Homo sapiens: one gene and its partner. The protein of the gene in region 2 purifies or fractionates together with the protein of the main gene of each other region. This does not show direct contact. Each region holds a gene or a part of one and is shown on either strand. Other genes may lie near its edges.

Evidence for each region. Proteins that work in one complex are often made in the same cells at the same time.
Region 1: the proteins of LOXL4 (region 2) and RPAP1 purify together in Homo sapiens (affinity purification with mass spectrometry; one large-scale study listed by BioGRID and IntAct). This does not show direct contact.

Annotation. Positions count from the first base shown.
Region 1 is NC_000015.10:41,534,175-41,537,826, forward strand, and holds part of RPAP1 (RNA polymerase II-associated protein 1), read right to left. Parts: intron 3,028-3,652; 5' UTR 2,952-3,027; coding exon 2,771-2,951; intron 2,476-2,770; coding exon 2,327-2,475; intron 2,045-2,326; coding exon 1,955-2,044; intron 1,459-1,954; coding exon 1,338-1,458; intron 762-1,337; coding exon 540-761; intron 1-539. UniProt on the Homo sapiens protein: Forms an interface between the RNA polymerase II enzyme and chaperone/scaffolding protein, suggesting that it is required to connect RNA polymerase II to regulators of protein complex formation.
Region 2 is NC_000010.11:98,247,547-98,251,298, forward strand, and holds the end of LOXL4 (lysyl oxidase homolog 4 precursor), read right to left. Parts: intron 3,631-3,752; coding exon 3,519-3,630; intron 1,446-3,518; coding exon 1,375-1,445; 3' UTR 144-1,374; downstream 1-143. UniProt on the Homo sapiens protein: Catalyzes the oxidative deamination of lysine and hydroxylysine residues in collagen and elastin, resulting in the formation of covalent cross-linkages, and the stabilization of collagen and elastin fibers.

The sequences.
Region 1 (3,652 bases), on a different chromosome or scaffold from region 2:
TGGGAGGCCGAGGAGGGCAGATCACCTGAGGTTGGGAGTTCGAGACCAGCCTGACCAACATGGAGAAACCCTACCTCTACTAAAAATAAAAAAATTAGCTGGGCGTGGTGGCAGATGCGTGTAATTCCAGCTACTCGAGAGACTGAGGTAGGAGAATCTCTTGAACCCGGGAGGCGGAGGTTGTGGTGAGCCGAGATTGTGCTATTGCATTCCAGCCTAGGCAACAAGAGTGAAACTCTGTCCCCCCAAAAAAAAAAAAAAATTAGCTGAGTGTGGTGGTGTGTGCCTATAATCCCAGCTACACAGGAGGCTGAAGTGGGAGGATTGCTTGAGCCGTGAAGGTGGAGGTTGCAGTGAGCCGAGATCGTGCCACTGCATTCCAGCCTGGGTGACAGAGCAAGACCATCTCAAAAAAAAAAAAAAAAAAAAAAAAAGCATTAAAGTACTCAGCACAGTGCCCGGAACTCACAGTAAGCCTAGCTCAATAAGTGGTATTCCTCTCCTAGCCTGGTCTCAGCAGGAAAGCCAGGCACCCATACCAAGCTGGGCCAGCAACCGCTGCTGTTCCTGCAGGATCTCCTCAGGAGCCATGGCCTGCAGTCTTGCTATGTTCTCTTCATGGATAGTCTGGGCTTCCTGCTCAGCTTCTTGATCCCTGAGCCCCTTCCCTGTGACCAGATTGGGTCCCTGAAAGCTGTGGCTGCTCCCAGGAAGCTGGCAGCCCTGGTTCCTAGGAGTGGGTGTCTCACAGGTCACGGCACCTGGAAGAAAGGTATGATCACATTCATTGCTCTGTCCTCCAGGGCTCTAACTGGGCTTTTTGGCCTTCTTCTATAAGGCTATTAGCCCTGGAGACAGGTATAGACCCAAACTTTCCTCAGAGTGGAGACCCCACTGGGTCTGGCACAGGGACTCCAGGTGGCTTCTCCACTCACTGCTTCCCTAGTACTTATATGAAAAGGTTTTCCTCAGAAACATCCTAATTTCTGACTCCTCTTAGATATCTAGGCAGGCATCTATAGCCAGGGGCCTGCTCCCAGCTGTTAAGCTAATAATTTGCATCATTAAAGGGATCTTGGCCAACACATTTATTTTACAGTCTCTGCCAGACACTTCTGCCCTATTCCCTTTCTCTTAGGACTGCATAATGGCCTGCCCCACTCCCAGCACCTGAGACCCAGATATGGACCCAAGCCTCCCATACCTAGTATTCTCAGACTACTTGAGATGGCTCAAATGCACCTCTCATTTGAGGCAGGAAGACATATCTTCAAAAATGACCCTATGATTGTGTCTTTTAAAAAGGCCAAGCCCAATCCTCTTCAACCCCGGCTCACCCTCTGGTGGGCCCACGTTGGGCACAACTTCCCCAACTGATGGGCCCTTGGCTTCAGCTATCCTCCTTGCCGCAATTTCCTGGGCAAAGATGCTTCTCTTACCAGATGTTGCTGATTTCCCCTGTGGGGCAAAAAGAAAACCCAGGTTACTGATGCTCATCATCCCACTTTCCTCTCAACCTCTTTATATCAAGGCCTCTGGAACAAAGAGATAAAAGGGGATTTGCTCAATTTCCAGGGATCACAACCCTAGTTCTCAGAAAAAGGAGAGGTCTATAAGAGTAAAGGTCTTAGACTCTGACAGACTTGGGTTGAAGTTCTGGCTCTTCTACCTATTAGATGTGTGGTGTTGGACAAGTTATTTATCTCTTTGGGGTCTCAGTTTCCTCATATGAAAAATGGGAATAAGGACTCCTCATCCCCAAGGTATCATCATGATACCTGCCTTATATGTTTGTTATGAAGATTAAAAGAAGTAATGGGTATGAAGTGCTTAGTATGATCCTGCTTTGTAAATTAAATTGCTTATCATCATTAAAACTACCTGCCTGGAGAAGATGCACTATGAGACTCACCTGTCTGTCTCCTGAGCACCACCTAAGCTTACCCTTGCCTACCTGTGTGTCCCGCGAGCGAAGGAACACAGCAGGGAAAGCAACACCACTGGGCACAGGCAGATTCACGGCCACTGAACTTGTATCTCGTTCCTGTAGCAACAAAGCACAAAGTTGTGAAGCACAATGGAGAAACTTCCCCAGGCTGGACCCGATCCTATTAGCCCAGTTCTGAACGATGAGAACCTCACTCTGGGGGGTTACGGACCCTCCTCCCTTCAGGGCAGTGATTCTAACCCAGCCCCCAACCTGACCTCAGGGGTAAAAGTCTACCTTTCTGAAGCACCCTCCACTGATAAGCCTCACCCACCCCGAGCATCCAATATCCCTGTTGCCCTAGAACATCTTATCCTACTCAGCCAGAGTGAGACGCACAATAATCTTAGTCAAGACAGCAGTGATGTGCTGATCATGCCTCCTCAGCCTCTCTTCTGGGTCCTCATCCTCAGGCAGGCAGTGGCCAGGGCTGGGCCTGGCTCTCTTTGGAGGAGAAGGGACCAAAGCTGGGGGCAAATCTGGGAGATCTGAGAAAGAAAAGATCCCAAACGTGAGTATATGCACACCTTCCTAGGAAGACACTGCAGGCTAGGGAAGAAAGACAGCTGCCATGGGGCCCTGGCTCAAGCTGTGTCATCTTGGGTAAGATATTTAACCTCTTTGAGCCTCATTTTCTTCCTCTGTAAAATGGGGCTGCAGAAACACAGGCTATGCAGTGTCTGAAATAATAATGATGTGTCTGAATCCAACCACAACAGGAAGAGGGAGGGGCCCGAGGCTGTACCCTCTCTACTTCTCAGCCTCACATCCATGGGAACTCACTGTCCAACATCACCACATCCCGATGGTCCTGGAGCGGAGGCCGGTCTGAGTTGGCATCACCACCGCCCCTATTTCCTTTCTTCACCAACTGCACTGCTGGGGCTGCACCAGCTGCGAGAAACTGACTCTGGAAGTGCAGCAGGTCCACCTCGGACTCCCCTGGCTTCGGTCTCGACAGCATCTTGCTGCTCCAGCTGCCTCCCCAGTACGACTCTCTCCAGCAGTGTCTCCGTGTGGGGGTTCCCTCTTATTCATCCCTAAGAGCAAGAAAGAATATGGGCCCTCTGCAACTGAACCCTGATTCTCTTTATTGGGCAACAGCGAAGATCTTCTTTATCCTTGGGTTAACATGAACTCATTCCTCCTCATTCATACCTTACTGCCATTCCCTCTGTCTTCAGCCCTCCCTGATGTCATCAGCCTAGCAACAATATTTATAGCCAACTTAGGTTGTTTACAATCTATAGGTGATAAAACTCTCAGGAACAACCAGCAGGAGACCTGAGGAAAATGTCATCAGGGGCCGAGCAGATAAATGTTGTCATAATGGGGGGGTGATGATTCTGTATCAAACTGGAGAGAACATGCTTGGCCTAAAGGTATGTAAATTATTAAAAACCTTGGGCTGTAAAATATCAATATAAAAAACATTTGTGGCCAGGCGCAGTGGCTCACGCCCGTAATCCCAGCATTTTGTAAGGCCGAGGAGGGTGGGTCACCTGAGGCCAGGAGTTCAAGACCAGCCTGGCCAACATGGTGAAACCCCATCTCTACTAAAAATACAAAAAATTAGCTGGGCATTGTGGTGGGCGCCTGTAATCCCAGCTACCTGGGAGGCTGAGACAGGAGAATCGCTTGAACCTGGGAGATGGAGGTTGCTGT
Region 2 (3,752 bases):
AGACTTATGTCTGATTGGAGAAATGTAGATGGGCAGTCATGAGAAGCATGTGTGCCCTGTGTATCCCAGGCCCTGGCTCCATGGGAGGCAAAAGGGTAGGTCTGTGGTTCTGGGGTGTGTACATAATCACAGCTGGTCTGGTCTTTGTAGCAGTCCATAATGAGCAACTTTTATTGGCATTAGGGTGTCAGTCCTGTAAGGATCATCACTTAAGTGTGTCTCAGTGGAGAAAAGATCAAGAATCATGTCAAGAAGACCATGGGGTTTTATTCCACTTGAGCAAGAGCAAATCAGAGCCCCATCAAGCAGGAATGGTGGCCTTTCCCAGGTTCCATCCTTAACTAAACTGACTGTTCCCCCTTCTGATTTCTCCACGGTCTTCTGTCTCTTGCTCTGCCAAACTTGTTTTCTTATCTCTGTAGAGATGAGTGGCTTGTTTGATGTTCTTTCCATGGCAAAAATTTATTCAATGCAAAGTTCACTTCAGACACTTGGTTGAGACTTGAAGTTTAGACCAATCCTGAGATGCGTGGTGATCCTGAGAGAGAGCAGACTGCCTGCCAGGTAAATGGTCCATATTATTTCCTTGGCAGAGGCCCTGACAGGGGCTGGGGTCCGTGTTACCTCAGCAGTCTTTCTGCTTGGCCTACTCTTGCTGCTCTGTAGGAAGGCCCTATCTGGCCATTTCTGTGAAACTTGCCCCTTCTCAAGCACTCCGTAACTGTTGGTGTTGGCCCATCAGGCAATAAGGGGATGCCCGAGGTCTGTGCTTCCAAGGATAATAGAAACACCCATGTGTGTGGTAAGATAAAGGTAAGGACACTAAAGAACAGAGTGTGAGAGGTGAGTTCTAAATAACAACAGATGAAGAAAGGATTGGATCCACCAGCTTCTCTGCCAGTTGTGATTTTGATACAAGTTGTGTTGCTTTGAGCTCCTAGCAGAGAGCTAACACTACCTGCTGTGTATTTTGGTCCTCTGTCCTATACTCCTCCAAGACATTTGCAAAGCACCACTTAGATGGGGGACTGGGCCATAGTCCATCCCTAAGAAACTGAGAGCTCCTGAATCCCGGATCTCTGTGGCAAGATTCAGGGATGACTGGGTTTCCTTACAGAAGAGGAGCTCAGCTGAGCAAAGCCTGGAGGACATATTCCATAGGCCACAGGCCCTTAGGGGCAGGCCCAGAGCCATCCTGAGGGAGCAATACCATCTGGATTGGTGATCTTGCCATCAAAAGGCTTCCTGAGCAGGTTCTTGGTGCCCCTTGGCACTGGCCCTTTTCCTCTGAGTTGGGACTCTGTGAAGGGCATGGCTCCAATAAGCTGAGGTATCTGGTGTATCGGCAGCAGCTAGGAGTGTGCAGTGACAGCTTCAGATGAGGTTGTTCCTGAGACGCTGTTCCTGCTCCAGGGAGAGTTCTGCATTGGCTGGGTATGAATTCCCTGTGGGCCAAAGGAAAACAGGTAAGTAGCCAACCTTTCCAGTCTCATCCCTTCCCTGACAACTTACATAGATCCACTCTGCCCAGCTCATCCTTTATATCAAGTCATGGCATGGGCACAGACACCAATCATTTTATAGAAATAGGCCTGGGACAGGTGTGTGGTTTCAGGAACATCAGGAAGAACAGGCTATTGATTGGAAAGAGTTGTGCTAGTTATTCTCCTTTGCCCCCCTCCCCAGGTTCATTCTCTGCCCTTTTTTCCCTCTGTGCCCTAGGAAGCTGATGCCTAGCGATTACATCACTCTGGCTCCTTTGTCCTCTTTTTTTGTTTGTTTGAGTTGGGTCAATGGAAAGCAACAGCAGAAGGTCAGAGGGTGGAAGGAGAGAGGCCGGATATTCCTTCCCCTACTTTGGCCCTGTGGTTCTGGCAGTGATGGTCTGTGACTCCTGTTCCAGCTAGGTTCACCCTCCTTCACAACTCTGGCTTGCACCTGGCTGCAAAGCAGCCCTTGCCCCTCTTCAAGCCTAAAGCAGATAACGGTTTTCTACTTTCTTTATGCTTGATGTCTCAACACTCCTTGTTTTCTTATAAATAGTCCTTTAATTAAATAAACTCAGACTCTCACCCGAGTGTGCCTTCTGTTTTCCGCACACTTCTGTTTAGCCCTGTTGGATCCTAAACACTGGCAAGAGGACCTGCAGGACTGCATTATTTTTCTTGCCCTTGTCACTGCCTGGGAACCCTTGCAGCCTGATTCTAGCATTATGGAGGATCTGCTGTCTCCGTGTGCGTAGCCTTGGATTCCAGTTCCTGGTTCCTCTCAATATCCCTGTTTCATTTAAGTGGCAGCACAATCTACTCAGCCACACAAATTCGAAACCTTAGACTGTTCTTCCTCTTCTCATTTTCGTCCATCTGTTGCCACAGTTATTTTTTGAAAACCTAAATGATCTTTTGCCTCCTTGACTGAAATTTGTCAATAGTTCCCAGAAGCCCACGGGATAAAATCCATTATCTTAGAACTATCACAACCCTCCCTGCAAAAAGCTCTAGTACTTAGTAAGTTTGAAGTATACAGCCCCATTTTACAAAACAGAAAACTCAGGTCGTGATTTCCTCACTGTCCTCCAGCTAGAAAGTGGTGGGACTGGATTCGGGTGACGCCTTCCAAAGCCCAGTCCTGTGCTCTTTCTCTACTCCTCCCATGTTTGACTTTGGCTCCTCCTTCAAACCTCAGATCAAATACTACTTCTGTGAAGCTTGTGCTAGCCCCCAACAGGTTGCTTTCTGTCTGTGCTTGCTCAGCATTCAGTCCACACATTAGTAGTATTGGGGCTATTTGCATGTGTGCATACCCTATCTGACACTTACATTCCCAGTTTCTGGGGCACAGCGTTCAACACAATAGTGAGCCTTAGTAAATGTTTGTTGACTAAATGAACAACTCTGCCCCATCCCACCGCACATATGCAAGTATGAGTGAATGCATATCCCATAGCAAATATGGGCATTTTTAACCCTTGAAGATAGAGGGAGTCTTTACTGACAGAACAGCCCCTCTTCTCTGCCCCCACTGGATCATGATGCTTCCTTTGACTGATGCTACCAATCCTGTAAGTGGCTCTGTTTTCCATGGTCCCCTTCTTGCAAGCAGTGATCACAGCTGGAGACAGCAACACAGAGCAAGAGGACTACTTTTGCCTGTGAGGACCCTAACCCTAACTTCTATATGAAAGAGAAAGGAAAAATAATGGACTTGAAAATCCTGACATGGCTTGAGGTGACAGGAAAGATTCTAGAACAGATTGGAAACTGAGTTTACAATCAAACAGCCTTAAGTGCAAACAGGGATGTAGAAGATGTAGTTATTGGGTGAAGCCGATGGTCTGACCAGTTCTAGAAGTCTGCCTTGTAAGATGTCAAAGGAAATGCATCTCTGTTCCATCCATAGCCTTTTGCACACCACACACATACAAGTCACACGCTGGAGTGTGGGAGCAGAGGGTACATTTACAGTGTTCCAGCTCCCTGAGCCTATAGATGGCTGATTCCACAGTGGCTCGGAGTTACCTGTGTGGCAGTTGTGCAGCCAGACCCGGTGCCCATCATACTTGCAGCGGCACTGCAGCATATTGTTGGAGAAATCTGACTCTGCCACTTCATAGTGGGGGTTCACAATCACCTAGAGTGAAAGAGGGGACAACTGAAAATGGGTGATTTGGTTTCTGAATGAGTTGACTGTGGCTGTGATAATCCTTACATGTGTTTCTATTTGCTTCATTAATTCTTAACAATTACCCAGGA